Linked DNA regions of Homo sapiens: all the other regions are linked to region 1. Evidence: fine-mapped expression QTL. A gene starts in region 1. Each other region holds a variant in brackets. All regions are shown on one strand. Distances are from middle to middle.

Region 1 (7,850 bases):
GCTAGGAATCATTCACAGGGACCAGACTAAAACCATAAGACTAGGTAAGATACTTCCTCAGAAACCATATTGAGACTATTCTTTCAAAACTTCTTTTGCCTTATCCCATCTCCAGCTTTACTATCTCCTGCTTCTTTCTAGCAAAAAATCTAGAAAAACATAAGGACATCAAGACTTAAAGGGTAGGAATAATAAAAATTAAACTGGAAAACTGCCTGACAAAAGATGGCACAATGCATGTGAAAATCATATTATGATCTATTATAACTACCTAATTTCTCCAAGAAAACTTTTTTGAATGGCAAACCTATGGATCATTTTTTCATTTTTTTGGATCATGAAGCTCTTTAAGAATGCAATGAATGCTATAACCCATCTCCACAGAAAAACACAAATACATACAACATTAAGCCTATTAATTTCAGAGCACTCCATGGGCCTCCTGAGGCCCAACTAAAGAGCTTCAGTTGCCAGCTCCTAGGTCCCTAGGTAACCCAAGCTGCAGGCACTTCATGACAGATAAAGCCTGCAGAGTTACACGACACTTACAAGATACGACTTTAGACAGTGCAGATAAAATGTATATATGCATTGGCCTGAAAAAAATAAAGATAACTTACTTACTAAGTAAAATTTGAGTCATTTAGTCAATACCAAAAGAAGAAGGGCATATGATGGTAATAATATCTCCACAACAAAACAGCTCTGAGAGGTTGATTTCACAAGGTCACATAGCTAATAAATCCCAGATTGTCCACATCCTTGTTCAGTGCTTTGGAACTAAACCACGCCACCTTAAGTACAATAAATATGTTATTACATTGAGTAGGAAAACATTTTCAAAATAAAAATCTCCACCAACCTTCCAAGAATGACTATAATCGGATCTCTTATTTATTTAATCCAATCATTCCATTTTTAGCACGTAAATGCTGACAAATTAAGGAACAAATTATATATATTGGCTTTTGAAAACAAAATGTACTTCTCTCTAGCACAATTAATTTGTATAAATAAGAAAAAACTAAAACAGCAAAACAAATAACAAAAAAATGTAACTTTATAGAATAAACTTGATTATAGACAAAAACATAAACAAGAGTTTGGCAGGCAGGGGTACATGATGTCAAGAACCACATGAAGTTTCTCTGCTTTGGTCACTGGTATTGGAAGAGTCTGGCAGGCAGGGACCAAGCATCTATTATCTGATATCCACTTGGCAGACTACATAAACAGTGAGACCTTGTGGCACAGCAGGAATTAGGTATTCCAACTACTACTTAAAGATCTACACTGACTCAGAGTGTGGCTACAACTCAAATGCTAAACTAAATGTGTGCCTCAGTTTCTCCACTGGAAATGTAATACATTATCTGCCCATCTCCTATCTTTAGAGAGGCAGCACTGCCAATTGGTTAAGAATACAGTCCCTAATTGGTTCAAATTTTGGCTTTGCCACCTACCAACTTTGGCAAGTTAATCTCCTTGTGCCTCAGTTTATTCAACTGCAAAATGGAGTTAACAATAGCACCTATCTCACAGGGTTGCTGTTAGGATTAATTAGAAAAATCTTATAGTGCCTGGCAAGTAACAAGCATTCCATAAACATCAGCTAGTATTATCATTATTTTAAACGAATGACAAGATTAACCAACTTAGTATACCTCTATTACACTTAGGAAATTACAGGCCCTAATTTTTTTTTGCTTTTTAATCATGTGGCTTAACTACTAACTGTTCTTTTTAATATAGCAAGTACACAGCCAATTAGTCCTGTAAAAAAATTCACTGTATACCCTGCCACCTAAAACGTATACATTCATCGAGTTTTAGTTAACTTTTCATCGCAATATAAGCGAACTCCCCCAACCAGTCATAAGTGACTTGCATCCATCCACTTCTACTTTCACAGTCATCACCATATTCCTTAACACCATTATTCTTACCTAGACTATCACAGTGGCCTCCCAACTGCTCCATTCCACTCTTCATGCTGTAGTAGGGAGCTCTTTTAAAAACCTAAATCTAATGTCACTCCTCTGCTTAAAAGCCTGCAATAGTTCCCCATTGTCCTAAACAAGTCCGATCTCCTAATGAGAACTAAGAGGCCTGCAAGATCTAGGGCCACCCTCCCGCTCTGGCTGCTCAGGCTATACAGGCCTTCTTTCACATCGGGCCTCAGAGCCTTCACATATCATGCTCCCCTATCTGGCGTAATCCCCTCTCCCCAGTACCCTAAGCAACGCCTAATCATCTCTGAGATCTCAGCTGAAAGGCGATGAGCGTCTGATACCCTAAACAGGATCAGGTCCTCCTATTACATGCTCTCATAACCCTGATCCTAATACTCTTTTCTGCATCACAAAATTAAACGGCAATAATTATTTAAATGGCTATTTAATACTGTCCTTGTCCAAAAAAATAGAAACACTTAGGAAGATTTGGAACCAAGTCTATCGTTTACTGCTACAACCCAAAGTGCTTACTTGCCAAGTATCTCATACATTGTAGGTGGGCTCAATATATCTATATTGCATAGTAGGAAAAGTGATGAGATCCACGATGGTGAAAAGTAGATCATCCAGAAAATCAGACTAAAGCAGAACACTGGCTGCACTGTATTAAATATGTAAGTTACCACAGGCATTACACTGAAGAGTAAAAACCTGCTTAAACATGGGCAAAATAAAGTTAAGACTGAACTTTCCAATGCAAAATTAAGTTTCTTTGTGCATCCTCAGGTGTTATGTGAAACTGGAGGAGTTCAACTTCAGTTACCAGTAAGAAGATACACAACTAAATCAAGACTGCTGCCACATTTGGCAACAACCTCCTCTCTTCTTGGCAGTAACTGTGAGGCCAAGAGTTGAGTTGGCCAGGGAAGAGTGATTTATCTTCCCACATTTAGAAGTGGTCCCTCTACAACAGGAATGCTGTACCGCTACTGGACTTTGAATTCTAACCTTGTCAAACCAGTACCTTCCCTAAGTATTCAAGTCACTTTTTAAAAAACAAGTTTAAATGGCATCGCAGTCCAATTCGACTTAGAGAAAACAAAGTTGCTCTTTCCAAAAAAAAAAAAAAGTCATTACTCTGGAAAATTAAAAGAAACTGACAGGGGGATGAATAAGGCGCTAAAGGCTGAGAGCTGTCGATGGAAGATGGAGGTCGCTCAGCATAGTATAATAACTACCACCGAGGCCTGGTGGGCAGCAGCTCCCAACCTAGAGCGGACGACCCCAGGTTGGCGTGAAGCAGGCAGGTTTGACAACACCAGACCCCTGCTGTCCGGTTCGTCGCGCTGACCCTGCCAACGCAACAAACGCCCAGACCTTCTCTGCACTATGGATGAGCAGTGTGGCCTGCTCTCGTTCTGCCCTTCCCTGGAAATGCGCGCAAGAAGGGAGGTGGCAAAAATCATGTCCACCGGGGGGGCTCAGGTAAGGGCTGGGGAGGTCTCGGGGTTAAACATTCGGCCCTTTGTTCACCAAGGCAGCAGAGCCCTTGGCGTCCGCAGCTCCTCCTCCCCGACTGCTCCCTGGCGCCAGCGTCTCCCGAGGACAGGCGGCAAGGGCTCGGACGCCCAGGCTTGGCTGCGGGTCGGGATCCCACGGCCTCGGCGGCGCGCGGCCCCTGCCTTTACCTTGTAGACGTCGCCGTAGGTGCCGCTGCCGATGCGCTGAATCAGCTCGAAGTCCTCCTGCGGGTTCCGGCGGGACAAATCGAAGCCGGGGTTCATGGCGGGCCCCAGGTGCCCCCCGCCTCCCTCCCGGGCAGGGGAGGGGGGCCGCTCAGGGGGCCACACGGAGAGAGGGCGCCGCGGCCGGCTCCCGGCTCCCCCGGCGGTCACAATCACCCGGCTCCACGCTGCGGCCGCCGCCGCCGCCGCCGCTCCCCTCACGCCGCTGCGGACGACGACAAGCGGCCAATCGTCCCCGCCCCCCGCGGCCCGCCGCCGCGCCGAACCTGGTCACACCCACAAGGAGAGGAGAACCCTCGCAGCCCCTCGCTCGGGGTGAAACTCCAACATGGCTTCCGCTTTCGCCGCTCCTCCCCCTCCCCTTACTCCGGCTCCTCCAACCTCCTCCCCTTTTCCCGACTCCCGCCCGACTGCGCAGCCGCGATCCCGGAGGGAGCGCGCCAGGCCTGGCGCGCACCCGACCCCTTGCGCGTTCCGGCTCCGCGCGCCTGCCAGGCCGGGGCCGGCGGCGGAACAGCTTGGGACCCGAAACGCCTCGGCTTTTCTGCGGACCCGCGCCCGGCCGCTGCCGCCGGACGCTTGAAAAGGTTTGCCTGGCCCAGGGACCGGGGTTAGGACTAGCAGAAAGTGGCTTCTTTTCGTTTCTGATTCCCCTAACGACAAAGTTGGACCTTGGTCTATCTGGTCCCAGTTCCAAGCAGGTAGCATAGTGGTAATATCCAAGACAGCCAATGTCCCAGCCTTTATTATTTTAGAAGCAGCTACATGTAGGATACCATGGAGTGCTGCAGCCTTTCTGGGATTGCGGGGAGGGGTCACTAAACACACCGTGAGGAAAACCCCCAGGAAAAGTGAGCTGTGCTTGCTTGCCCCTGTCACCGACACTCGGACCCTTGGAGTTGGCCTGCCAGGGTGCAAAGGAGGGCAGGCCAGGAGGGCCGCGAGGGAGGTGTGTGCAGTGGGCAGAGCGTGAAAGCTCCGGGAGGAAAACACGCGGAACAGCTGCCCACCATCCCGCGTGGGAGGCAGGCAGAGCGCAGAACTAAAGCAGTGATTGACCTCCCTCTTCGAAGAGGGTTGGATTATCAAAGACGGGCGGGGACTGCGCAGGCTGTCAAGCAACCCTGTAAAGAAGGGGTGGAGAGTGGACTAGATCTATTACCGCACCTGAAATATAAACACGTGACGATCCGGAAGCTCTTTAGCTGTGACCTTACCTACCCAAAAACCCCACCCTGCTTAAGACCCAGATTGCGCGTCTTACATCTGAGCTATGTGGACTCCAGCTCCGATTGTTAATACTTGCCCAAGAAAGCTTGAGGGTAATGGAAGGTTATTTTTCTGTTCTCATTGAACTTCCCAATAGACATTTGCAGGAGCTTTAATCAATTAGGTGATGGCCACTTTGGCAATACCACGTTGGAGTTTTGCTTCAGAAATGCTTTCCTAATCCCCTTAGGCACCACACCTTCTAACCACTAATATTCCCTAATACCTCGTGGCTCCTGAGAAACTAGGTCTCATCAAACCTGTTAAGGATAAGTATAATAAATTAATAGTAGAGCAAACTACTTAGAGTTAACTGCTTCATACTTTTTCAAAAAATCTTTTGAATCCTTTTGCTCATAGGAAAATTGCATATGTACTAAATTCTCAAATTGTTTACTTTGAGTATCTGTTGACTAAATTGATGTTTGAAAATGGTTATCTCTTCACCTATATAAGTAGCCTTTCAGTTGTGTAATTTTTAATTATTAAATTTTAAAGCATCAGTAATATGAAAGTATCACTTAAATTATTGCCTTAGGAGTGCATATCATTGAATATCTTCTCGATGGATCTACCTTCAGGCTCTGGTATCTTGAGAAACTCCTGACTATAAATGTTATTCCATAGCCAAAGGTCTTGCTTTTGCTTGTTTAAGGTACTTGCCCAGGACCCAGATTACAGGCCTTCCTTCAGTTTGTCCACATTTGGAGAATTGTTTGGCATGTTTAGGCCAAGCGCAAGAATAATTAGCCAAGGATTCAGATAAGCAGACCTGACAAATTATCCCAAATGGAAGCCAGGTCTGCTCTTTTCCTCTGCCTTTTTTTTTTTTTTTTTTTTGAGAAGGAGTTTCGCTCTAGTTGTCCAGGCTTGAGTGCAAGGGTGCAATCTCAGCTCACTGAAACCTCTGCCTCCCGGGTTCTTAGCGATTCTCCTGCCTCAGCCTCCCAAGTAGCTGGGATCACAGGCATGCAACACCACACCCAGCTAATTTTTGTATTTTTAGTAGAGATGGGATTTCTCCTTGTTGGTCAGGCTGCTCTTGAACTCCCGACCTCAGATGATCCGCCTGCCTCGGCCTCCTGAAGTGGTGGGATTACAGGCATGAGCCACTGCACCCGGCCTCTGCCTTTTTAGTGCCAGAAAGCCAAATTCTCAGGACTGAAAGCTGCACAAGAAAGTTCTAATGACTTCAGTGTTTTGTTTGCTGAGATTATCGTCTGTCCAAATAACTTTGCATTTGCATCACTAATAGACTGCTTTCAAAAGGAAAAGACATTTCAGTAGGGCTAGAACAGTCTTTAAAGTTTTGTCTGTTCCATTTTGGCAGGGCCAAGCTAGTCCTTTTGAGAAGAGATGAATTTCCATGTAAGGGCCTGATTTGCCATGTGGGTTACAACATAAGTAAAACAACTGCTCACAAAGAAAATATTTTGTTTTTTGTAATATATGCATGTGGCCAATTCCAGTGCCTTTTCCCCCTGTTCTAACAATCCTCAGTTTTGCTAGAAGTAACACTAATGATCACACTTTCCTAGAATCAGAGAAAGAGCTTCCCTCTTCTATGATTAGAAGCATTCTTAGAAGTCATCTAATCTTTTTAACTCAGGAACTGCTTCTACAGCATCTCTGCTGGATTTGCTGCTGCTTGAATACTTTCAATAAAAGGTGACTCATTGCTTCCCAAAACAACCCACCTCGTTGTGATACAGTGCTAGTAAATGATCATAATAACTAGGAGAAAAGTAGTAATTTCTAACATTGCTAAGTGCTTACAAGATACCAGGAATGGAGCCAAGTATTTTTCATGTGTTATTTCATTTAATTCGCACAACAACCTAATGACATAGGTAATATTATCTCCATTTTATGAGGCACAGACAGATTAAACTGCTCAAGGTAACACAGAAGGCTGAAATTTGAACAAAGGCAGTATGACACCAAGGCTAGATTCTTAGCCACTAGTCTATACTCTGCTTATATACAATATACTGTAAAAAATTTCTCTTATGGTAAGCCAACCTCTACCTCCCTGTAATGTATTTAGAGGCAATGATTATTAGATTCTGGTGGTATTGAATACAGAAAAGAAAAGCCACAATGCCTTCCCTCAAGGAGTTGACAGTCTCATAAATAGTGTGAGAAGCACAGAGAAGGGACATTAATGCAGACGGGAGGAAGATTTAGGAATGACCCCTTGGCTGGGCGCAGTGGCTCATGCCTGTAATCCCAACACTTTGGGAGGCCGAGGCGGGTGGATCACCTGAGGTCAGGAGTTCAAGACCAGCCTGGCCAACATGGTGAAACCCCATCTCTACTAAAAATACAAAAATTAGCTGGGCGCGGTGGCACGTCCCCTGTAATCACAGCTACTCGGGAGGCTGAGGCAGGAGAATCACTTGAGCCGGGAGGTGGAGGTTGCAGTGAGCTGAGACTGCACCATTGCACTCCAGCCTGGGCAACAGAGGAAGCGTCCGTCTCAAAAAAAAAAAAAAAAAAAAAAAAAGGAATAACCCTAAAGCTGAACCTTGAAAAATGCATAGGCAGACAAGGGAAAGTGGTGCATGACAGGCTGGCTGCTTAGCGCCTTGAAGCACCTACCCGTTTAAGCATCACACAGCAAGGAACACAAGAAGGCCAAGATAGGCAGCAGTCCCCACCTGCCAGCATGTCCAGGCCATCCTTCTATTGCCCCATCCCCCATGGGTTTCTGGCTTAGGAACCCCTTGATCCCCTGCACAGGCTCCCAATTTCATCCTCGACCTCTTGTCTGACAACTCACTGGAGCCCCTTCTTTGGCCTATTAACCTCAGCCCTCCTCATATAACATAACCACCACTCACATTTTCAGTACATTAGCTGCTCTGGAAACAGGATACTG
Region 2 (7,850 bases), 54 kb after region 1:
TCTCTCTCTCTCTCTCTTTCTCTCTCTCTCTCTCTTTCTCGCTTTCTCTCTTTCTCTCTTTCTCTCTTTCTCTCTCTCTCTCTCTCTCTTTCTTTCTTTCTTTCTTTGATGGAGTCTCACTTTGTTGCCCAGGCTGGAGTGCAGTGGCACAGTCTCAGCTCACTGCAACCTCCGCCTACCGGGTTCAAGTGATTCTCCTGCCTCCGCCTCCTGAGTAGCTGAGATTACAGGCACACACCACCACGCCCAGCTAATTTTTGTATTTTTAGTAGAGATGGGGTTTCACCATGTTGGCCAGGTTGGTCTCGAACTCCTGACCTCAAGTGATCCACCTGCCTCGGCCTCCCAAAGTGCTGGGATTACAGGAGTAAGCCACCATGCCCGGCCCTTCATCCTATTTTGATGTCAGAGACCACGTATGGATATAGTGCTGGATGCTTTATTTACCAACTTGAGCCTTTAATTTTGCCTCTGAAATGAATTATTTATTAGCAAATACATTAACATAACATTTTTCATTTGGAGGCATGCTAAACTGTTGACCTTTTTCGTAAAGATTCTAAGGGGGCTTGAAAAGGAAAAACCTAGAAATTTATAAATACTGAATAGAGTGTCCATCCTTCTTCACTTTGTTTCCTAGTAGCGCTTTCATCCTGTCACAAATTGGTTCAGCAGCAGAGGAGTTAATATGCACAAGCACTTTTCTTTGTCATAGGACGACATTCCATTTGAGTCCTTTAAGGATGTGCTGGAAAGGGAGTGGGGAAGTTACACCGCAAATATTATCTTCCCCAGATGCAAACAAGTTTCTTTACTAGTAGAACTGGAAAATATGTGCCACTTGCTAATTTTTTACTTCTAAACTTTTGTTAGGCTGTTAAATTTGGTGAATAATACCATGAATTATTATTATAAAGATTAGCACATCTATTTACAATAGAATATTTCAAACAGACAGAAAAGCATACAAAATAATATGACAAAAAATCATCTATCTACAATCCAGCCCTAAGTGCTAGATAGTATTTCATGTAATAAAATTTTGCCATATTTGCTTCAGATCTCCCTTTTTCCCTCCCTCCCCCTTTTGCCCTCTTCCTCCCTCCCTTTTTTCCCCTTTCCTCTGTTTCTTCCAAGTTAAAACCTTTTTTTCCTCAACAAGCCACCAGAAGTGCTGACAAAGTTAAAATCATATAGATGTAGTTAAAACCCCTGAAACCAATCTATCTCATTCCTCTCTTGTGATCTGCAGGGTGACAACTACCCTGAATTTAGAGTTTTAATTCCTCTGTGTATTTTTATATTATTTAAAATTTTTTTTAATAAGAGCTGGAGTCTTCCTGTGTTGCCCAGGGTGAAGGGCAGTGCCTATTCACAGGTGCAATCCACTATGATCAGCACAGGAGTTTTGACCTGCTCTGCTTCCCACACAGGTGGGTTCACCTTTCCTTAGGCAACCAGGTAGCCCTCTGCTCCTGGGAGGTCACTATATGATGCCCAGAACTAGTGGGCTCAAGCAATCCTCCCGCCTCAGCCTCCCAAGTAGCTGGGTCTATAGGCACACACCACCACACCCAGCTATTTTTTATATTTATACTATATATGTATCCATAAGACATAAAGTTGATTTGCAAGTTTTTCATCATTAAATGATATATTATGCGCTTTCTTCTTAATCTCTCACTCAACATGTATTAATACTCATCTTTTTTTTTTTTTTCTAAACAGTCTCACTCTGTTCACCAGGCTGGAGTGCAATGGTGTGATCATGACTCACTGAAGCCTTGACCTCCTGGGCTGAAGCAATCTTCCTGCCTCAGCCCTGCAAGTAGCTGGGCCTACGGGCACACGCCGCCATGCCTAGCTAATTTTTGTATTTTTTGTAGAAACAGGGTTTCACATGTTGCCCAGACTAGTCATGACCTCCTTAGCTCAAGTGAGCCACCTGTCTCAGCCTCCCAAAGTGCTGGGATTTCAGGTGTGAGCCACCATGGTTGGCCCCTAATACACATCTTTTTTTTTTTTTTCTTTTTTTTTTGAGATGGATTCTCACTCTGTCTCTCAGGCTGGAGTGCAGTGGCACGATCTTGGCTCACTGCAGCCTCTGCCTCCCAGGTTGAAGCGATTCTCCTGCCTCAGCCTCCCGAGTAGCTGGATTACAGGCGCTTGCCACCACGCTCTGCTAATTTTTGTATTTTTAGTAAAGATGGGTTTTGCCATGTTGGCCAGGCTGGTCTTGAACTTCTGGTCTCAAGTGATCCGCCCTCCTCAGCCTCCCAAAGTGCTGGGATTACAGGTGTGAGCCACTGCGTCAGGCCAATACACATCTTCTAGTTTATTTAAAGTGCTAGATAGTATTTCATTGTATAAAAAGACCACAGTTTATTCATTCTTTTGTTGATAGATCTTTAAATTGTTTCCATTATTTTTCCCTTACAAACAATGCATGATAAATGTTTTTGTATGTGTCTCCTTGTGAGAGTTATATATCTAGGTGTGACATCACTGGGTTCTATCACAAGTCTTTGGAAGTAATTTTTATGTGGATAGTGCAACAATATGACTAGTTACTTAAAAGAAAAAAATTAAGTCAAGATAAGTGGCGGAAGACACAGAAATTCAGAAATAGGATGTAAAATAGTAATGGAATAGTAGGTAAATTAGATACATAATCCTATGCCTTTTTTTTTCTTTTTGAGACGGAGTCTCGCACTGTCGCCAAGGCTGGAGTGCAGTGGCGCCATCTCGGCTCACTGCAAGCTCTGCCTCCGGGGTTCACACCATTCTCCTGCCTCAGCCTCCCGAATAGCTGGGACTGTAGGCGCCCGCCACATGCCCGGCTAATTTTTTGTATTTTTACTAGAGGCAGGGTTTCACGGTGTTAGCCAGGATGGTTTCAATGTCCTGACCTTGTCATCCGTCCGCCTCAGCCTCGCAAAATGCTGGTATTACAGGCATGAGCCACTCCGCCTGGCGACAATCCTATGCTTTTTTAAAAAGGTAGTTCATCTTTTGGCTGGGCATGGTGGCTCATGTCTGTAATCCCAGCACTTTGGGAGGCTGAGGCAGGAGGATCACTTGAGGTCAAGAGTTTGAGACCAGCCTGACCAACATGGTGAAACCCTGTCTCTACTAAAGGTACAAAAATTAGCTGGGTGTGGTGGTGCACACCTGTAATCCCAGCCACTTGGGAGACTGAGGCAGGAGAATCACGTGAACATGGGAGGCGGAGGTTGCGGTGAGCTGAGATCACGCCATTGTACGCCAGCTTGGGCAACAGAGCAAGACTCCAGCTCAAAAAAAAAAAAAAAAGGGAAACATTAATGAAAAGGTAATTCATCTTTTGAAAAAAAAAGTAGAGTGAACATACTGAACATCACAGATTTTCATCTACATTTAAGATGCTAGCTTTAGGCTGGGCGAGGTGGCTCATGCCTGTAATCCCAGCACTTTGGGAGGCCAAGGTGGGTGGATCACCTGAGATCAGGAATTCGAGACCAGCTTGACCAATATGGTAAAACCCTATCTCTACTAAAAATACAAAAATTAGCTGGCATGGTGGCGTGCACCTGTAGTCCCAGCTACTTAGGAGGCTGAGACAGGAGAATTGTTTGAACCTGGGAGGCGGAGGTTGCAGTGAGCTGAGATTGGGTCACTGCACTCCAGCCTGGGCAAGAGAGTGAAACGCTGCCTCACAAAAAAAAAAAAAAAAAAAAAAAAAGATGCTACCTTTAGTGTCACTGCTTCTGTGAAGCCTTCCAAAAAT[T/C]GCCTTTTTTTCAATTACTTTCTCCTTTTGACCTCCATTCTCTCTACCTCTGTTATATGATATTGTGCATTATATTTGCTGTGGTTTGTTTATATCTCTCTCAGCAGGCTGAATGTGTTTTGAAGGTGGAGTTCATGTCTTATTCGTATCCCCAGGGTGTGGTGTGCAGTTGGTGGTTAAGTCTGAGGAATGAATGAATGGCCCAAATCACCGAAGATCTTTCAGAGGTGGCAGTGGGGTTTCTTTTTTTCTTTTCGAGATGGAGTCTTACTCTGTCATCCAGGCTGGAGTGCAGTGGCACAATCTCAGCTCACCGCAACCTCTGCCACCCAGGTTCAAGTGATTCTCCTGCCTCAGCCTCCCGAGTAGCTGGGATTGCAGGCACGCACCACCACGTCTGGCTAATTTTTTTATTTTTGGTAGAGATGGGGTTTCACCATGTTGGCCAGGCTAGTCTTGAACTCCTGACCTCAAGTGAACTACCTGCCTCAGCCTCCCAAAGTGCTGGGATTACAGGCGTGAGCCACTGTGCCCACTGGCAGTGGGTTTCTGATGATAGGATAGTTTCATGAAAGTTAGCTTAAAGTACAAAAAACTTTTTTTTTTTCTTTTTTTGAGACAGTCTCATGCTCTGTCCTCCAGGCTGGAGTTCAGTGATCTTGGCTTACTGCAACCTCTGCCTCCTGGGTTCACGCCATTCTCCTGCCTCAGCCTCCTGAGTGGCTGGGACTACAGGTGTGCACCACCACGCCTGGCTAATTTTTTGTATTTTTAGTAGAGACAGGGTTTCACCATGTTAGCCAGGATGGCCTCGATCTCCTGACCTCGTGATCTGCCCGCCTCGGCCTCCCAAAGTGCTGGGATTACAGGCATGAGCCACCGTGCCCAGTGAAAAAGCTTTGATCCTTTGTCTTCAATTGCACCTATGAAAAGGAAGTTTCGTATAAAAGCTGATATAAATGGCTAATAAAGCAGAGAAATAGCTTAAAATTTGACTGTAGACATTTGCTATGTATGATTAATATGTATCAGTTTACAGTTAATTTTAGGAAAACTTAAATTTTATAAATTGCCAAGAAATCACCCATGAAAAACTAATTTTCACTTAGCGGTTTAATTTTTTAACATTAGGATTTTTAAGTTTCGCTAGTCTTATCATCTGGGACACTGGAATTTTGTCTTGTTGGAATTGCTGATTAAACAAAATAATTCTTCAAAAGTGCTTAGCACAATGTTAGGTAAATAGTAAGCACTAAGTAAACATTGGCTTTATTATTATTAGGTGGTCCTATACTATGATTCCTCCTATTTATATCACGTGTGTCTTGCTGCATATTTAAGGACGCTCCCATCTATATGTTTGGACTAGTGCAATAGTAAAGCTGCCAGCTCAGGTGAAGAAAACCATTTAAAAATTTAAAGTTAAGCACATGATGGAAAATTCTTGAATATGTGGTGAGTTAGGTATAAAAAATATAGGGGGATTGTATTGTTGAATACAAAAAAGCCATTAGACTATTTTAAGAATGCTCTCTTCTGTCATTAGGGCTTGGTTATGAATAGTATATCACATGCATGAAAGGAGGTGGTGGCTAGTTTCATTTCCCTAAAACATGTTTCAATGGTAAATTAGAGGCAGCTGTGGTTTACTGACGCATAAACCCAGTGAGGTCTATGATAACTAGTATATATTTACAGTTTGACTCATGGTGCCTGTCAGGCTTTAATCATAGGGGAAGAAGTGATAGTACTTAGACTTCACTGTTTAATCTTCCGTTCATTTGTTTTCCAAGTTTGTTTCAGTCTGTGGGCAGGTTCCCTTTTGATTGCAACATGCAGTCCCTATTTCTGCAGTTTATCTTCATTTGCCATTTTGAGAGGGCTATGAAAGTCCTATGATAAGCTCCTTGTTCTCCAAATCCATGCATATAAGTCTCATCGAGTTGGATGCATTCTAAAGACATTTTGAAATCACATCAACACTTTCAGATCAGCAAGTTATTTCTTAATAAATTACTGTCTTAATGTTAGATGCTATTTTAAAAACACGAAAGAGAGCAGTTTCCAAATATGTGTTACTACTTCCAGGGAATTGTAAACTGGAGTGTTTAATTAAAAGAAGGCCCTAAATTTTTATTATGCTGTCACTGGATATTTGAATAACTAGCTGTAAATGAGTTCTAGTTGTACAAAAGTGATTTTCTAAATCCAGTTGTCCCTATTTCAAAATATAGTTCTAGTTCCTGGGTGAAACTGAAAATGAAATGGCCATGTCTTTATAACTAAAACAAATTAGAGGGTTGCAGCAATAAAATGAACCCACAGAGGGGAAAAAAACCCTTTGAATCAGGTTTTTATTTTCTTCTCCTGAACTGATTGGGTAATTTACTCAACTAATTTTGTCTAGTCATTAGGAAGTTAATACTCCATTCTATAATTTCCTTCCACTCAAGTGAGCAATACTGGTGCATATAATTTGGATTAAGAACATTCCTCTACTCTTACAAATATTTGGATATATGCCTTGAATATGCTTCCTCATTTAGGCCACAGAAATTTATTCAAAGACAAATCAATCAAAGATAATAACATTAACTACTATTTATTAAGCATCTCCTTCATGACAAGACTTTTTCCCATATTGAGATATAATTGACAATTGAAAATTGTACATATTTAAAGTGTACAACATGATGATTTGATATGCATATATATCCATGCATATATATCCATATCCATATCCATGCATATATATGGATATATATGCATATATATGCATATCAAATCATGTCGTACACTTTAAATATGTACATATTTCAATTATGCATATATATGCATATATCCATATCAAATCATATATATATAATATGCATATATATCATATACATATCCATCACCTCACATAGTTACCATTTTCTTTTGTTCTCTCTCTCTTTCTTCCTTCCTTTCTTTCCCTTCTTTTTTATTTTTTGGTGGTGAGAACACTTAAGATCCACCCTCTTAGCAAATTTCAAGTATATAATATAGTGTTGCTAATTGTAGTCACATCGTTGTAGAATACATCTCCAGAATTCATTCATTTGGATAACTGAAACTCTGTAACCCTTTTCCAATATCTCCCCATTCCTCTATCCCTCCAGCTCATGGCAACCAACATTCCACTCTCTGCTGTTCTAAGTTTGACTACTTTAGTTTTTACATATAAGTGAAATCAACACAGTATTTGTTTTTCTGTGTCTCGCTTAGTTTACTTAGCTTAATGTTCTTCAGGTTCATTCATGTTGTAAATGACAGGATTTCCTTTTGTTTTGAAGGCTGCATAATATTCTGTTGTATATGTATACCATATTTTCTTCATCCATTCATCTGTTGATGGACATTTAGGTTGTTTTCATATCTTGGCTATCATGAATAATGCTGCAATGAACGTAAGAGTAGAGATATCTCTTAGAAATCCTGATTTTCCTTTTTTTTTTCAGACAGTCTTGTCACCCAGGCTGAAGTGCAGTGGCATGATCTCGGCTCACTGCAACCTCCGCTTCTTGGGTTCAAGTGATTCTCCTGCCTCAACCTCTGGAGTAACTGGGATTATAGGCATATGTCACCATGCCCGGCTAATTTTCTTATTTTTAATAGAGATGGGGTTTCATCATGTTGGCCAGGCTGGTCTGGAACTCCTGACCTCAGGTGATCTGCCCGCCTCGGCCTCCCACAGTGCTGGGATTACAGGTGTGAGCCACCGTGCCTGGCCTATTTGATCATCTTTTACAGCTTAGGGAATTAAGGTTTAGATGTGGCACAGGACAGAAACATACTTTGAAGATAGGTCTGTTTGACTTCAAAACCTGTGCTCTTTGCCAGGTGCAGTGGCTCACGCCTGTAATCACAGCACTTTGCAAGGCCAAGGCAGGAGGATCACTTGAGGTCAGGAGTTTGAGACCAGCCTGGCCAATATGGCAAAACCCTGTTTCTATTAAAAATGCAAATATTAGCCAGTCATGGTGGTGTGCTCCTGTAATCCCAGCTACTTGGGAGGCTGAGGCACGAGAATCACCTGAATCCCGGAGGTGGAGGTTGCAGTGAG
Region 3 (7,850 bases), 71 kb before region 1:
CCACAAAAAAACTGTTAGCACTAATAAACAAATTCAGCAAAGTTGCAGGATACAAAGTCAAATGCATTTATATACACTAACAACAATCTGAAAAGGAAATTAAGAAAATAATCCCAATTGCAACAGCATCAAAAAGAATACCTAGTAATAGACTTAACCAAGGAGGAGGAAGACCTGTACTCTGAAAATTACAAAACGTTTAATTAGAAAAATAAATGTAAAGACATGCCATGTTTATGGACTGAAAGAGCATTGTTAAAATGTTCGTACTACCCAATGCGATCTACAAATTCAATGTAATCTGGAGAACAAACAGCAACTTTTTTCTTTCAGAAATAGAAAAAACAATCCTAAAATTTAGATAGAACCACAAAGAACGCCAAATAGCCAAAACAATCTTGAGAAAAAAGAATAAAAGCTGGAGGTCTCACACTCCTGGTTTCAAAACATATTACAAAGCTACAGCAATCAAACAATATGGCACTGGCATAAAGACAGACATATAGACCAACGGAATAGAGAAAAGAAAACCCAAAATAAACACATGCATATAAGGTCAAATCCTCTTTCACAAGGATGCCAAGACTATGCAATGGGATAAAACAGTATTCAACAAAGGTGCTGGGAAAAACTGGATGGCAGCATGCAAAAGAATGACATTGGACGTTATCCTACATACACAAAAAATTCAGCTTTAATTTATTAAATACTTGAATATTAATTAAATACTTAAATGCAAGGCCTGAAACCATAAAACTCTTATAGAAAAACACAGGCCAAAACATTCATAATATTAGTCTTGGCAATTATTACTTGGATATGACATTAAAAGCACAGGCAACAAAAGCAAAAACAGACAACTGAAATTCCACCACTAAAAAGCTTCCGCACAGCACAAGAAACAGAATTAAAAGACTACCTATGGAATGTAAGAAAATATTTGCAAACCATATATCTGATGAGGGGTTACTAGGCACTCCTACAATGCAACAGCAAAACAAAACCCACCAAATAACTGGATTCAAAAACGAGCAAAGGGCTCGGCGCAGTGGCTCATGCCTGTTATCCCAGCACTTTTGGAGGCCGAGGTGGGTGGATCACCTGAGGTCAGGAGTTTGAGACCAGCCTGGCCAACATGGCAAAGCCCAGACTCCACTAAAAATACAAAAAATTAGCTGGGCATAGTGGCAGGTGTCTGTAATCCCAGGTACTTTGGAGACTGAGGTGGGAGAATTGCTTGAACCCAGGAGGTGGAGGTTGCAGTGAGCCAAGACTGTGCCACTGCACTCTAGCTTGGGCAATAGAGTGAGACTCTGTCTCAAAAAAAAAAAAAAAAAAAAAGAGCTATGGTTGAATGGGTGATGGATATATGAAATAGCTTGATTTGATCATTTCACAACATACATATGCATCAGAATACCATGTTGTAAACTGTAAACAAACAGTATACAATTTTTGTCATTTATACAGTAATCATACTGGGGATTTTTTTTTTAAGAGCAAAGGACTTGAACAGAAATTTCTCAAAAAAAGATATACAAATGGCCAACAGATCTATATCAAAAGATGCCCAACATTACTGTCTTCAGGGAAATGCAAATCAAAAACATAATGTCACTTCTCACCTGTTCAGATAGCCATTATAAAAAAAAAAAAAAAAAAGAAGACAATAGCAAGTGTTGTCCAGGATATGAATACCCCCGTCCACTGTTGATGGGAATGTAAAATGGTGTAGCCACTATGGAAAACAGTACAGAAGTTCCTCTAAATATTAAAAATAGAAATGCAATATGATCCAGCAATCTCACTTGTGGGTATATACCCCAAAGAACTGAAATTAGAATCTCAAAGAGACATTTGCACTCCAGGAAGCAGAATGGTCATGGCCAGAGACTGGGGGAAGTAAGAATTAGGAGTTGCTGTTCAATGTGTAAAGAATTTCAGTCACACAAGATGAAAATATTCTAGAGCATAATGTATAACATAATGGTTATAGTTAACAATACTGTACTAAATATTTAAATTTGTTAAGAGAATAGGTATCATGTGACGTGTTTTTACCACCATTGATAAAAAGAGACAAACTCTAAAATATTTGAAGAGATTTATTTTGAGCCAAATATGAATGACCAGTGGTCTGTAATACAGCTCCAAGAGATCCTGAGAACATGTGCCCAAAGTGGTTGGTTTTACACATTTTAAGGAGACATAAGACATCAATCAAAACGTGTAAGGTGGGCCAGGTGCGGTGGCTTACGCCTGTAATGCCAGCACTTTGGAAGTCCAAGGTGGGTGGATCACCTGAGGCCAGGAGTACGAGACCAGCCTGGCCAACATGGTGAAACCCCATCTTTACTAAAAATACAAAAATTAGCCAGGCGTGATGGCATATGCCTATAATCCCAGCTACTTGGGAGGCTGAAGCAGGAGAATTGCATAAACCCAGGAGGCAGAGCTTGCAGTGAGCCAGGATGGTGCCCCTGCACCAGCCTGGGCAACAGAGAGAAACTCTGTCTCAAAAAAAAAAAAAAAAAAAGATAATGGGTAGCAGAGACCAAGGTTTTATCATGCAGATGAAGCCTCCAGGTAGCAGACTTCAGAGCTTTTGTCAGACCTATGAAGTGCCAGACTCAGTTAATTCTCTCCTGGATCAGGAAAAAGACCTGGAAAGGAAAAATGAATCCTCTATAGAATACAGATTTCCCCCACAAGAGACGGCTTTGCAGGACCATTTCAAAATATATCAAAGAAATATACTTGGGATAAAATACTTCTATTTCTTTCAGGGCCTGCTATCTGTCATGTGATGCTATACTAGAGTCAGGCTGGAATTCTGTGTCTTATTGCTATAAAAAGTCTGTTCACTAGTCTTAAGATCTCTATTTAAATGTTAATGTTGGTCAGCTGAGCTTGAATTCCAAAGGGAGGAGGGTATAATGAGGATGTCGGAGTCTCATTATGATGGTAACATCATGGCCTGAACTAGTTTTTCAGGTTAACTTTGGAATGCCCTTGGCTGAGGAGAGCCTCCATCAGTCGGTTGGGGGGCTTAGAATTTTATTTTTGGGTTACGCCATAGTAATTTTTTTTTTTTTTTTTTTTTTTTTGAGACGGAGTCTCGCTCTGTCGCCCAGGCCGGACTGCGGACTGCAGTGGCGCAATCTCGGCTCACTGCAAGCTCCGCTTCCCGGGTTCACGCCATTCTCCTGCCTCAGCCTCCCGAGTAGCTGGGACTACAGGCGCCCGCCACCGCGCCCGGCTAATTTTTTGTATTTTTAGTAGAGACGGGGTTTCACCTTGTTAGCCAGGATGGTCTCGATCTCCTGACCTCATGATCCACCCGCCTCGGCCTCCCAAAGTGCTGGGATTACAGGCGTGAGCCACCGCGCCCGGCCCATAGTAATTTTTAAAATGTCCTATAGCCAAGAGAAAAATGTAAGCTTAGACTACGAAAAATCAACAAGGTTTCTCATGCCATTGTTATGGGTATTTCACTCTCAAATCTTCCCATTTCCATTCTATTTTAAACACAGAGAAGTGAGAACACACATCTACGTTACATGTAAAAGTGTTTTAAAGTCAATTTCAAATTAACTTTTAATTTCATGTGTGGTGTCATTCAAAATACATAATTTCTAAACTCCATTTCATATGGTAGAAACAATAAATGAAATTAACAGTACTTCAGTTGTTCGTGAAAGGAGTCAAACTCTGTAAAATATTTGAAGAGATTTATTCTGAGCCAAATATGAGTGACCAATGGCCCATGAAAGAGTCCTCAGGAGACCTGAGAACATATGCCCAAGGTGGTCAGGGTACAGCCTAGTTTTATACATTTTAGGAAGACCTGAGGCATCAATCAAATACATTTAAGATTTACATTGGTTTGATCTAGAAGGGTGGGACAGCTTGAAGCAGGGTGGTGGGGTGGGGGTGGAGGTGGTGGCTTCCAGGTTAGAGGGAGATTTTAAAAATTTTCTGATTGGCAATTGGTTTAGAGTTATCATCAATAGAAAGGAATGTCTGGGTTCTGATAAGGGGTTGCGGAGACCAAGGTTTTATCATGCAGATGAAACCTCCAGGTAGTAGGCGTCTCTTCAGACGTAAATGTTTCAGA[C/T]GAAATTTCAGACGAAGAAATGTTTCTCTTGAGATGTAAGATCTGTACTGATGTTAATACCAGTCAGCTTTCCCTGAATTCAGAAAGGGAAGAGGGCGTAGTTCCACCTCTGCTTCCATCATGGCCTGAATTTTTCAGGGTAACTTCGGAATGCCTTTGGCCCAGTGGAGGGGTTCGTTTAGATGGTTGGGAGGCCTTGGAACTTTATTTTTTGGTTTACACAGTAATCTATGGCTAACATTCCAACTTCTCTTAAGTTGTCAATTACTGTGTCAAACTACTGGAGTACCAGGAAATACTCTGAAACACTATATTAAATTATCAGGGTATCTTGAAACCCACTGGCTAATCTTTAAAAAGATAAGAAATTGGCTTAAGTAATTACAACATAAAATTAGAAAAAACTTTTCTAAAACCACAGAAGCAGCACCCAACTTTGAATTTTTGAAGAAATATTAAAGCCCTGATCAATAACACAGAAATACAAAGGAAGTATCTAATAATCCTATTGATTCCTACTTATTTCAAAACAAATGAAAAAATGATTAAAACAGCAATATTTGTATTTTTTTCAGAAATGAGAATGAAGAAAACAACCCTTCAAATACTTCACCTGATAAAAATAACTTAGAGTCTATTTATTTGTTTGGCTGTATTTTAGTAAGTGTTCTTGATTAATGTTTAAGATAAGTATCACTTACATTTACATACATTGTTACTGAATGGCCTTTGAACTTGGGTTCCACAAAGCCAAGTAGAAATTCCCTTGCTCAAACTATCTAAACAAAAAAAGAAGCCAGGCACAGTGGCTCACACCTGTAGTCCCAGAACTTTAGGAAGCTGAGGCAGGTGGACTGCTTCAGCCCAGGAGTTTCAGACTAGCCTGGGCAACATGGTGAGACCTCATCTGTAGAAAAATTAAAAATAAGCTGGGTATGGTGGTGTGAGCCTGTAGTCGCAGCTACTTGGGAGGCTTAAATGGGAGGACTGACTGAGCCTGGGTGGTTGAGGCTGCAGTGAGCTGTCACTGTGCCACTGCACTCCAGCCTGGGTGACAGTATGAGACTCTATCTAAAAAAACAAAAAAAGAAAAGGAAAAGGAAAAAGAAAAGAAAGAAACCATGGCCCTGGCTCCCTAAAAAAAAAGTCTTACTCTAGAGCTGGGCATGGTGTTGGAAGCCTGTAGTCCCAGATATTTGGGGGACTGAGGTGAGAGTTTGATCCAACCTGGGCAACATAGTGAGACCTCAACTTTAAGATAAAAAGAAAAAATGTCTACCCTAATGCTGTGTTTCCCAACTCTGTTTTCCTAATGCCTCTCCCCAAGAAATTTTAATACCACAGATATTCTGCATGTTTATGTATTATGCATATATACATACATATATCTGTGCTTTGTACATAAAAAGAATTAAGATTTTTTTCATCCCAAAGAACCAGTTCCACTCCTTTCTTATTTTAAAGGAATATTTGAGAAAACATTCTCTAGTGCAAATGGATTGTGTCCAGGTAGTCAGGGAAGGAGGGCTTAACTTGAGCTTCCTGACCTATAAACCTGTTTGGTCTCCTTTTCTTACCTGGATCCAGCTCTTTTGAGAGCCAGGTTTACCCGAGTGGTTCTGATGGAAGGCCCAAAATAAGGAAGGTACCCGTAACTCAGGACTGAATTTCTAGTGAAAATCCTCTGGAGTATATCGCGCCCCCTGCCTACTAAAAATTATGGCAGCAACCCTACAGTTTCTATATGTAAAGTAAGTATTATAGTAGACTCAAAAAATGTTTCTGGAGTAAGGACAGAAAAAGGAAAAATAGAGCACGGTGTAGATTTTAAGGGAAGTGAAGAATACAATGGGCAAAAAATTTTCTGTTTTTATCATGCCCACCAACAAGAACAATGACATATTGTTTAAAATAGTTTTAGCTGGACACAGTGGCTCATGTTTGTAATCTCAGAACATTGGGAGGCCAAGGCAGGACAATCACTTGAGGCCAGGAGTTTGAGACCAGCTTGGGCAACACAACGAGACCCAGTCTCTACAAAAAAAACTAAAAAATTAGCTGGGTGTGGTGATGCACACCTGTTAATACCAACCAGTAGTGAGGCTGAGGCAGGAGGATCGCTTGAGCCCAGGAGTTGGGGCTGCAGTGAGCTATGATCACATCACTATACTCCAGCCTGGGTGACAGGGTGAGATCCTGTCTCTAAAAGAAAAAGAAAAAAAAAATCCCAAAAAAGAAAAAAAGTTAAATAAAATAGTTCTAATTTTGGACGTTTTTAATTTCTCAACTTTCTGTTCTCTCACCAGATCTGATTTAAAGATAATTTTTTTTAGCAGCTCCTGATCTGTTCTTGAGGTTACATAGGCATAAACCACAGCTGTATAAAACTCATGAAAATGAGTTTCTAAAATCAAAACAACAAACCTATTCTTCCCATAAACTCAATTTTTACATATATCGTACCTCTCCCTTATCCCTTGTAACCTATCAATCACGTTTTAAGTTCTATCCACCCTAAAATCTCATGCAGTCACCCCTTCCTTCCCTCTGCACATAACTCAAGCATGGCTGTCACAACAGTAACATGTCTTCTCACCAGCAGGGCTTCTCTCCCATCTGCCTGTGTACACTGAATCTGCCTACAGTTATACTCTGACCATGTTACTAACCTGTAAAAACAAACGAAATCCCACTGTTTTACAGGGTAAAATCTAAACCTTTGGGCTAGTTTTTTTTTTTGTTTTTTTTGAGATGCAGTTTTGCTCTGTCACCCAGGCTAGAGTGCAGTGGTGTGATCTTGGCTCACTGCAACCTCCGTCTCCCAGGTTCAAGTGATTCTCCTGCCTCAGCCTCTCAAGTAGCTGGGAATACAGGTGCGAGCCACCAAGCCAGGCTGATCGTGAACTCCTGACCTCAGCTGATCTGCCCGCCTCGGCCTCCCAAAGTGCTGGGATTACAGGCGTGAGCTACTGGGCCTGGCTGCTTTGGGCTAGTATTTAAGGCTTTCCATAAACTATCATCAGTTTTCCACTTCTTATTTCCCACCATGCTCACATAGAGCATACTACTCTAGACAAATCAAACTACTACTTCCAAACAGGCCTAGTACTTTCATACTACCTTTGCTTTTATACTATCCTCATGTGGAATACCCTCCATTCTCTTATTCTACTAGCAAAATCCTAGCCAGTCTTGAAGGCTCATCTGAAGTTTTACTTCCTTATCCCAAGGGAAGTGGAACTCACAGCTTCTATGGAACCCACCAAATATAAGTTAGGCTACATCAGCCACTCTGCACTATGTGTATTCTTTCACACAGCATCCTACCTAGATATTCCCAACCCAGAGTATTTCGGAGTAAATAGTCAAAGGCGGATCTTCAGTGACCCATGAATTAAGTCTTTCTAGTCACAGCCATCACCGTTCCTTACTGCCAGCACCACCACCTACATATGCACACACACTCTGCTCAATGGGTTCTCCGTAGTTAGGCTGCTACTTACATAAACATTCTAGTTTTCACATTGGATAACAAGTTACTGGAAGGCAGGAACCATATCTCCGTATCTTCCTTCTAACTAAATTAAGTACTAAATAAACATCCTTGAAGCCAAATCACTGGTCATAAACAGAGGACTGAGAATAAGAAATACACTGCAGATAAACAAAACAAAAAGTCCTTTGTCAGTTGCTTTTTTATTTTGGAGCATTATTACCTTTCAATGTGTAAATA
Region 4 (7,850 bases), 35 kb after region 1:
TTGTTTAGCATAATACGCCCCTTGTTTAGCATATCATAAAAATGGGCAACCAGCGGCCCTCAGGGCTGCTCTGTCCATGGAGTAGCCATTCTTTTATTCCTCTACTTTCTTAATAAATTTGCTTTTGCTCTGCACTGTGGACTTGCCCTGAATTCTCTCTTGCGCAAGATCCAAGAACCCTCTCTTGGGGTCTGGATCAGGACCGCTTTCCTGTAACAGTCCCCAGGCACAGAAACTCTGAGGGAATCAGACACTTAGTTGTCTTTATTGCTCCCTCTTCAGTATATAGAACAGAGCCTGGCACACCTAGGTGCAAAATAAATATTTCTTGCATGAAAGAAGTCCACAGTGCAGTCACTGGCTTTTTTAGATGGTTAGCTCACTAGAATTTCATTTTTTTTTTCTCCTCCTCCTTTACAAAAAGTTTTCAGACAGACTTTGGGCCTGCTGGGGCATTTTCAAAAGACAAATAGTCCTGCTGCTGCTCCAGAGGACCCACCGCCCACCTCCCAGTCAGAACTATGTCTCTCTGTTCTTGTTGGAAAGGGGGACACAGCTTGCTTTGCAAGAAACTTGCATAGGAAATGGTGCAATCTGGGCTGTTTTTCATCTTCTTTCAACCTAATTTCCTAAGTTAAAAGAAAGAGAAATTTAAGGAATCTTAGGAATATGAAACTTCTCTGGAATGATCTTTACTGAGCTGTGTTTGGAATCAGCTGAAATCCTGAAGGACTGTCAAGCCAGCCAAGAATAAAAGAAAATAAAAAATAACTTAAACAATCCTAGCCAAAATCTGAAAATGATATCTAGAGCAGCTGCTATTTTTTTCTTTCCCAGAATGGTTTGCCTTTCCCCCAGTTTGTAATTGTTATAGGATTGTTTTAGGTTATTTTGGAGTAGAAAAGAAGAAAGAAGGAAGGAATCGAGTGTTTTGGAAGTAGTATGATGCGGTTAGTTCTACCTTTTAAGCTTTATAATTTACACAGCTGTTGTACACATGTGAACTCCCTCTCATTAGGATGCTGCTGACTGGTACAGGAAGTTTTTATTCATGGCATTCTCCTTAGGAGTTTGTTTATGGCATTTAGGTCCTCTCCTGCCTTCCCTCCCCACCCCCACCCCAAATCAATCTATATTTGTAATTTATGGATGATCTCTCCAGGGCTTAATCTGTGGGGTAAAAGGCTGTCTTATCTGCTCTACATTTACTGAAAAAGGGTGCAAGAAAAACCGTATCTAGCTGGCCAGATGGGTAGGGAACACTTGGTTGCACTAAAAATTTTCCAGCAATGGTATCCCCAGCTTGCCCTTTTGCCCGAATAGTGCACAAAGTCAGCAAGCATTTCCCCTGAAGTGTCCACCTCCACACGGCCAAGACTGGCTTGGCTGGTTACCAGAGGCACTGAGAAGATTGAGGAGGCAGCTTATAGAATACTTTGCTTGCATCCTCGTTCTCATCCCATTGTGAGGTAACTGCCCCACAACTGAGCTAGATAAGAGAAAGGAACTGAAACTGATTTGCCCAAGGTCAGTCTGGGTGGATATTGAGCCTAGAATAAAGCACAGAATAGCTGCACCTGGGGCTGGCCCAGGGCATGCTCAGATGAATCACTGGCTTCACCAGAAATGCAGCTAGTCTGGAATGCAGTGCAGGGGCCCAGATGCCTGACACTGAACAGTAACTTAGAAAGGGGAAGGTCTTTTCCTACACATAGTGAAGCTTCAAGGAATCTTTAAGAAAATCACATAAGAAAGATGAATAAAAACTTTTTCTTCCTCCTACTCCTTCAACCCCTATTTCAGGTTCTTCCTTAGAGCAAACACTGATTTCAAGTTGGAGTGTGTCTTTTCATCTTTTTAGTTATTTATATATCTTTATTGATCTATCTGTGTACATACATCTGCATCTACATATGTGTGTATATGTATCTATCTATCTATCTATCTATCTATCTATCTATCTATCTATGTATCTATCTATCTATCTATATCTATACACAGACAGAGAGAGAGCCAGTGAGGGAATTTTGCTTTGTTTTGTTTTGACTGAAATGGTATCACACAGTGGATTGTTCTTCAACTTTGCTTTTTTTTTTTTTTTTAAGTTTAGCCATATCTCTCAGAGATTTTTCTGTGTCAGTACATTTTAGTTTTTTTCAACTGCTGCATGCTCTCACATAAGTCAGATGCATCACTAAGTGTCAGTCTTTCGATGATCATTTAGGTTGCTATGCTATCAGTTTTTACCACTATAAATAGTACTATAGTGAAACAACCTTGTACCTGCTTCCTTTTTGCACATATGCAAGTATCTCTCTACAGTGGATACCAAGGTGTGAGATTGCTGGGTCAAATGATAGGCGCATCCAAAGTGTGAAGGATTGCTGCCAATGTGTACTCCAAAAAGGTTGGCCAGTTTATATTCCCAGGAATACGGTAAGAGAATGTCTGTTTTTCCAGATGCTTCCCAACACATCAGTCTTTCTTATTTATTGTCAATCCAATGTATAAAAAATAGCATCCTCTTCTTTTTGTTTCCCCCCAAAACCAGTAAGACTGAGCATCTTTTCAGATGCTCGTTTGCCATTCATGTTCCTTCTTTGTGAATTGCTTATTTATGTTCTTTGCCCATTTTTCAATTTTGTCTTTTTTCTGGGGACATATAAAGGCAAGTCCTTTGCTACATACATTACAATACTTTCACCCAGTCTCTCCTTTGGATTTGAATCTCATTTTGTTGAACAGATGTAAAGTTTTGATATAGTAAAATTTATTAATCCTCTTCTTTATGACTTTGGTATTTTTTGTATTGTTTCAGGAGGCCTTTTCTACCCATGGTCATAAACATGGTCTCACTGCAATTCTGGGAAATACAAAATTTTTAAATGAAGTATTTTTATGGTGGTCCAACCCCCCATCATCTGTTTGTCTGAATTACTGCAATAGCCTCTTAACTAGTCTCCCTGCTTCCTTCATCGCTTCCTTATAGTCTGTTCTCAACACAACAGCCAGGGTGATTCTTACAAAACAGTCAAATCATGCCATTTCTCTGAATCAAATCCTCCAATAGCTTTTCATGTCACTTCAAGCCAAAGTTATGACAACGGTGCCACATGCATCCTCTGCACACCATGACCTTTTTCACCTCATTACCTACTACTCTTTTCCAGTTCTTGACACATACTAAGTTCTCAATAAATATTGGTAGAATTCATAAATAAATTTTATCCCCATTCATTTCGGGTAAAAAGTATTGAAAATGTTGGCATTGATATGGGGAAGCTCCCATACACTGCTGGTAGCAGTGTAAATTTGTACAAACCTTTACAATTTATAAATACTTGAGGATGAGCAGATCCTTCCCCTAGGCAATGCTCCTTCTAAGTATACACTCTAGAGAGGTTATTTTATGTGTGCATAAAGAGACTGTAGGAAAATACTTATTATAGCCTTGCTTTTAATGGTAGATGGGAGGAAGGAAACAAAGAATGAATGAATGAAGAAATGGTCAGAGGACAATTTATCCTAATAAAATATATACAAAATTTACTAACTCATGAATGAATGTTTACTTTTGTAGAATGTCTTTTTTAAAAAATTCCATAGAGGGTTTTTTTTGTGTGTTTTTCTGTATGTAGGCAATATTATGAACAAATATATAGATATTTTCTGATGTCAAAACATTCTTATATTCTTGGGGTAAATTCTATTTGGTTATGAGGTATTTTTATTTTTTAAAATACATTCTTGAATTTAATTGACTAGGATTTTATTTAGAATTTATCTTTTCCTAAGGTTTCTAATTAGAGATATAGGGTCTTTTATTTTTTTCTTTCTTTCTTTCTTT[C/CT]TTTTTTTTTTTTTTTAAGTGAAAGCAGTTTGTTAAGAAAGTAAGGAATAAAAGGATGGCTACTCCAGCCGGGCGTGGTGGCTCACACCTGTAATCCCAACACTTCCCAACACTTTGGGAGGCCGAAGCAGGCGGATCACGAGGTCAGGAGATCGAGACCATCCTGGCCAACATTGTGAAACTCTGTCTCTACTAAAAATGCAAAAATTAGCTGGGTGTGGTGGCACATGCCTGTAATCCCAGCTACTCGGGAGGCTGAGGCAGAAGAATCACTTGAACCAGGGAGTCACAGGTTGCAGTGAGCCGAGATCACACCACTGCACTCCAGCCTGGTGACAGAGTGAGACTGCGTCTCAAAAAAATAAAAATAAAAATAAAAAATAAAATAAAATGGAATGGTTACTCCATAGACAGAGCAGCCTATAGGATCTTTTCAATTCAGTTTATAAGTGAGTTTGGTATGTAATATTTTTACTGCCATTTGTTTTGGGTGTTAGGGCTACCCTAGAATCATAGAGTGAATTGGATAGTACCTCCTTTCTTTCCAATTTTACAAAGTAGTTCCTGTATGATAGCTACTATTTCTTAATTGAAAGCTTGATAAAACTCATTTGTAAAAAAACATTTGAGGCCAGGCTCGGTGGCTCACGCCTATAATCCCAGCACTTTGGGAGGCCAACGCAGGCAGATCACCCGAGGTCGGGAGTTCGAGACCAGCCTGACCAACATGGAGAAACCCCGTCTCTACGAAAAATACAAAATTAGCCAGGAGTGGTGGTGCATGCCTGTAATCCCAGCTACTTGGGAGGCTGAGGCAGGAGAATCGCTTGAACCTGGCAGGTGGAGGTTGCAGTGAACCGAGATCGGGCCATTGCACTCCAGCCTGGGCAACAAGAGTAAAACTCCATCTGAAAAAAAAAACAAAAACACTTGGGCCTGATATTTATTGATAAGTAATAATTTTGATTGATTGTTGTTTGATCTATTACTGATTTTTTTAAATCTATTCAGGCTCCCTATTTCTTCTTGAGTTTATTTTGATAATTTGTATTTGTTTAAAAACATTTCTACTAAATCCATGTATACAAGTTTATTAGCATGAGGTTGAAAAATAACATTTTCTTTCTTTCTTTCTTTCTTTTTTTCCGAGATGGAGTCTTGCTCTGTCGCCCAGGCTGGAGTGCAGTGGCGCGATCTCGGCTCACTGCAACATCCACCTCCCAGATTCAAGCAATTCTCCTGTCTCAGTCTCCTGAGTAGCTTGGATTACAGATGCTTGCCACCACAACCATCTAATTTTTGTATTTTTAGTAGATACGAGGTTTCACCATGTTGGCCAGGCTGATCTCGAACTGGCTGGTCTCAAACTCCTGACCGTGTGATTTACCTGCTTCGGCCTCCCAAAGTGGTGAGATTACAGGTGTGAGCCACCGTGCCCAGCAATATTTTCTGAAGAATTAAAAAGCTTGTATTTGTAGCCAGGCACGGTGGCTCATGCCTGTAAAACCCAGAACTTTGGGAGGCTGAGGTGGGTAGATTGCTTGAGCCCAGGAGTTTGAGACCAGCTTGGGCAACATGGCAAAACCTCCTCTCTACAAAAAATACAAAAATTAGCCGGATGTGCTGGCACATACCTGTAGTCCCAGCTACTCAGGAAGCTGAGCTGAGGAGGATCGCCTGAGCCTGGAAGGTTGAGGCTGCAGTGAGCCTAGATGATGGCACTGCACTCTAACCTAGAAGACAGAGTGAGACCCTGTCTCAAAAAAAAAAAAAAAAAAAGTTGTATTTATAAATTTTACTTGAATTGTTTATATTACCTTTTCTTTCCTAATATTTTTGTGCCTTCTCTTGTCTTTTTGATCAGCCTTAATAGAAGTGTGTCAATTTAATTAGTTTTTTCAAAGTACAGTGGTCCCTTGGTATTTGTGGGGGATTGGTTCCAGGACACACTTGCATACCAAAATCCAAGGATGCTCAAGTCCTTGATGTAAAATGCCATACTATTTGCATATAGCCTGCACAATTCTCCTGTATGCTTCAAATTTTCTCTAGGTTACATAAAATACCTAATATGATATAAATGCTATGTAAATAGTTGTTATGCTATATTGTTTTTATTTGCATATTTATTGTTGTATTGTTATTTTTTATTTTTCAGAATATTTTCTGTCTACAATTGGTTGAATCTGTGGATGTGGAAACTGCAGATACAGATGGAGAGCCGACTATACTAGCTTTTTGTTTCATTTTTCACTTCTGGTGTGTGTGTGTGTGTGTGTGTGTGTGTGTGTGTGTGTGTATCTGTGTGTGTGTTTTATTAATCTCTGTGCCTGCATGTTAGTTTCTTCCTCTTTATTTGGATTTTCACTAACATTCTTTTCAGCTTCTTCAGTTGGATACTTGTTGCCAATATATTTTTTTTCATTCTAAGAATTAAATAAATGGGCCAGGCGTGGTGGCTCATGCCTGTAATCCCAGCACTTTGGGAGGCCAAGATGGGTGGATCACAAGGTCAGGTGTTTGAGACCAGCTTGGCCAAAGCTGGTGAAACTCCATCTCTACTAAAAATACAAAAATTAGCTGGGCATGGTGGTGCGCGTCTATAATCCCAGCTACTCAGGAAGCTGAGGCAGGAGAATCACTTGCACCCAAGAAGTGGAGGTTGCAGTGAGCCAAGATTGCGCCATTGCACCCCAGCCTGGGCAACACAGCGAGACTCCATCTGAAAAAAAAAAAAAAGAATAAATGAATGTATTAATCACCAAACTGCTCTTCATCAGAAACTCTTAGCAGTGGTATGTTGAGGTCTCCCTGCCTACCGTATATGTCTCTTAACTCTGCGGGTGCAATATTTTGTCATGGGTCAGTTTAGCAATATTGTACTATTTCCCAATTTTCTAAGTGTGTTCATTTCAGAGTTTATCCTATTCATTGTTCTTTCTTTCTTTTAAAAATTTCTATGACTGAGCTGGACATGGTAGCTCACACCTGTAATCCTAGCACTTTGGGAGGCTGAGGAGAGTGGATCACCTGAGGTCAGGAGTTCCAAACCAGCCTGGCCAACATAGTGAAACCCTGTGTCTACTAAAAATACAAAAAATTAGCTGGCCATGGTGGCAGGCGCCTGTAATCCCGGCTACTAGGGAGGCTGAGGCAGGAGAATCTCTTGAATCCATGAGGCGGAGGTTGCGGTGAGCCAAGATCATGCCATTGCACTCCAGCCTGGGCACCAAGAGTGAAACTCTGTCTCAAAACAAAAAAAAACTTTTCTATGACTGTATTTTTAATTCTCAGGATTTTAATTTGTTATTCTTCATAATCATAGCTATTTTATTTCTGACGGTTCGTGCTTCATAATTTTTATGAATGTTATTCCTCTGCTTAATTCCTTTGAAAGTCTTGAACAAATTCTTTTTAAAGAAGTAATTTTCAGATACTCTAGTATTTTGTTTTTACCTGGTGTGAATGCTTCTCCATGTTGTGGTTTCTATTTTTGGCAGTCTTTCTTATTTCTCTCCCTCTCTCCTTTTCTCTGTTCCTTCTTCTCTTCCTTCATTCCTTCCTTCCTGTCCCCCTAGGCTTAACCTTCCTGGTCTCATAGTTTTGCCGTTACCTACTTTCTGGGCCTCCCAGGCCTAGACCTCGGTTTTATCCTATAGTATTGTAGATCCAGTTCCTTCTCTAGGGTCAAATTCCGTCTTTAAGACTATGCCTGGTTCTTCCATGTCCCTAGGTATACAGATGTTTACAAGCCTGTAGCCCTAGGCAATTCCTTTCAAGGGGGTAGCCTTATCCCAGCCCTTGATTTCATGTGAGTCTTCTGCCTCACATGGGTTATTTAGTTCTTAGTACCCTGTATGAGTCTTGCCCCTGGATGCCTCTGTTTGCTGTTGGCAGAATTGAGCTGGTCTACATCTTCAGGCTACTTACCATATTGTTTCTGTTCCATTTCTGGGCTATGGAGATGTTTTTAAGTGTGAAAATGCCTTACATTTTTCCCATT

Which allele goes with the higher level. Alleles are on the strand shown, and positions count from the first base shown. SD is a standard deviation of normalised expression in the study named. Not every link is listed here.
For the expression in breast of the gene that starts at base 4,168 in region 1, allele T in region 2 goes with a higher level than allele C (small effect, 0.21 SD a copy in GTEx).
For the expression in lymphoblastoid cells of the gene that starts at base 4,168 in region 1, C is the low allele of the variant in region 4 and CT is the other (moderate effect, 0.63 SD a copy in TwinsUK).

The links. PIP is the estimated chance that this variant, and not a neighbour inherited with it, causes the effect.
Region 2: its variant is fine-mapped to the expression of MAP4K3-DT in breast (GTEx, PIP 0.95).
Region 3: its variant is fine-mapped to the expression of MAP4K3-DT in whole blood (TOPMed, PIP 0.97).
Region 4: its variant is fine-mapped to the expression of MAP4K3-DT in lymphoblastoid cells (TwinsUK, PIP 0.95).

What each region holds. Positions count from the first base shown.
Region 1 is chr2:39,433,249-39,441,098 of GRCh38, forward strand. It overlaps MAP4K3-DT (MAP4K3 divergent transcript), which reads left to right and starts at 4,168. Exons shown (of 6, transcript NR_037875.1): 1 at 4,168-4,287. MAP4K3 (mitogen-activated protein kinase kinase kinase kinase 3) reads right to left here and starts at 4,037. Exons shown (of 34, transcript NM_003618.4): 1 at 3,644-4,037. The coding sequence starts at 3,739. RefSeq lists an enhancer at 3,231-3,310 and silencers at 3,641-4,000, 4,071-4,290.
Region 2 is chr2:39,486,865-39,494,714 of GRCh38, forward strand. All of the region lies in intron 3 of MAP4K3-DT (MAP4K3 divergent transcript), which reads left to right. Among named protein-coding and RNA genes, the nearest start is that of MAP4K3-DT, 53 kb to the left of the region's middle. The variant T/C (reference allele first, on the strand shown) is at 3,767.
Region 3 is chr2:39,362,349-39,370,198 of GRCh38, forward strand. All of the region lies in intron 2 of MAP4K3 (mitogen-activated protein kinase kinase kinase kinase 3), which reads right to left. Among named protein-coding and RNA genes, the nearest start is that of MAP4K3, 71 kb to the right of the region's middle. RefSeq lists enhancers at 1,783-2,349, 2,350-2,916, 2,917-3,483 and a silencer at 6,937-7,110. The variant C/T (reference allele first, on the strand shown) is at 4,118.
Region 4 is chr2:39,468,522-39,476,371 of GRCh38, forward strand. The region is part of intron 3 of MAP4K3-DT (MAP4K3 divergent transcript); the gene reads left to right. Among named protein-coding and RNA genes, the nearest start is that of MAP4K3-DT, 35 kb to the left of the region's middle. RefSeq lists an enhancer at 986-1,486 and a silencer at 2,339-2,388. The variant C/CT (reference allele first, on the strand shown) is at 3,848.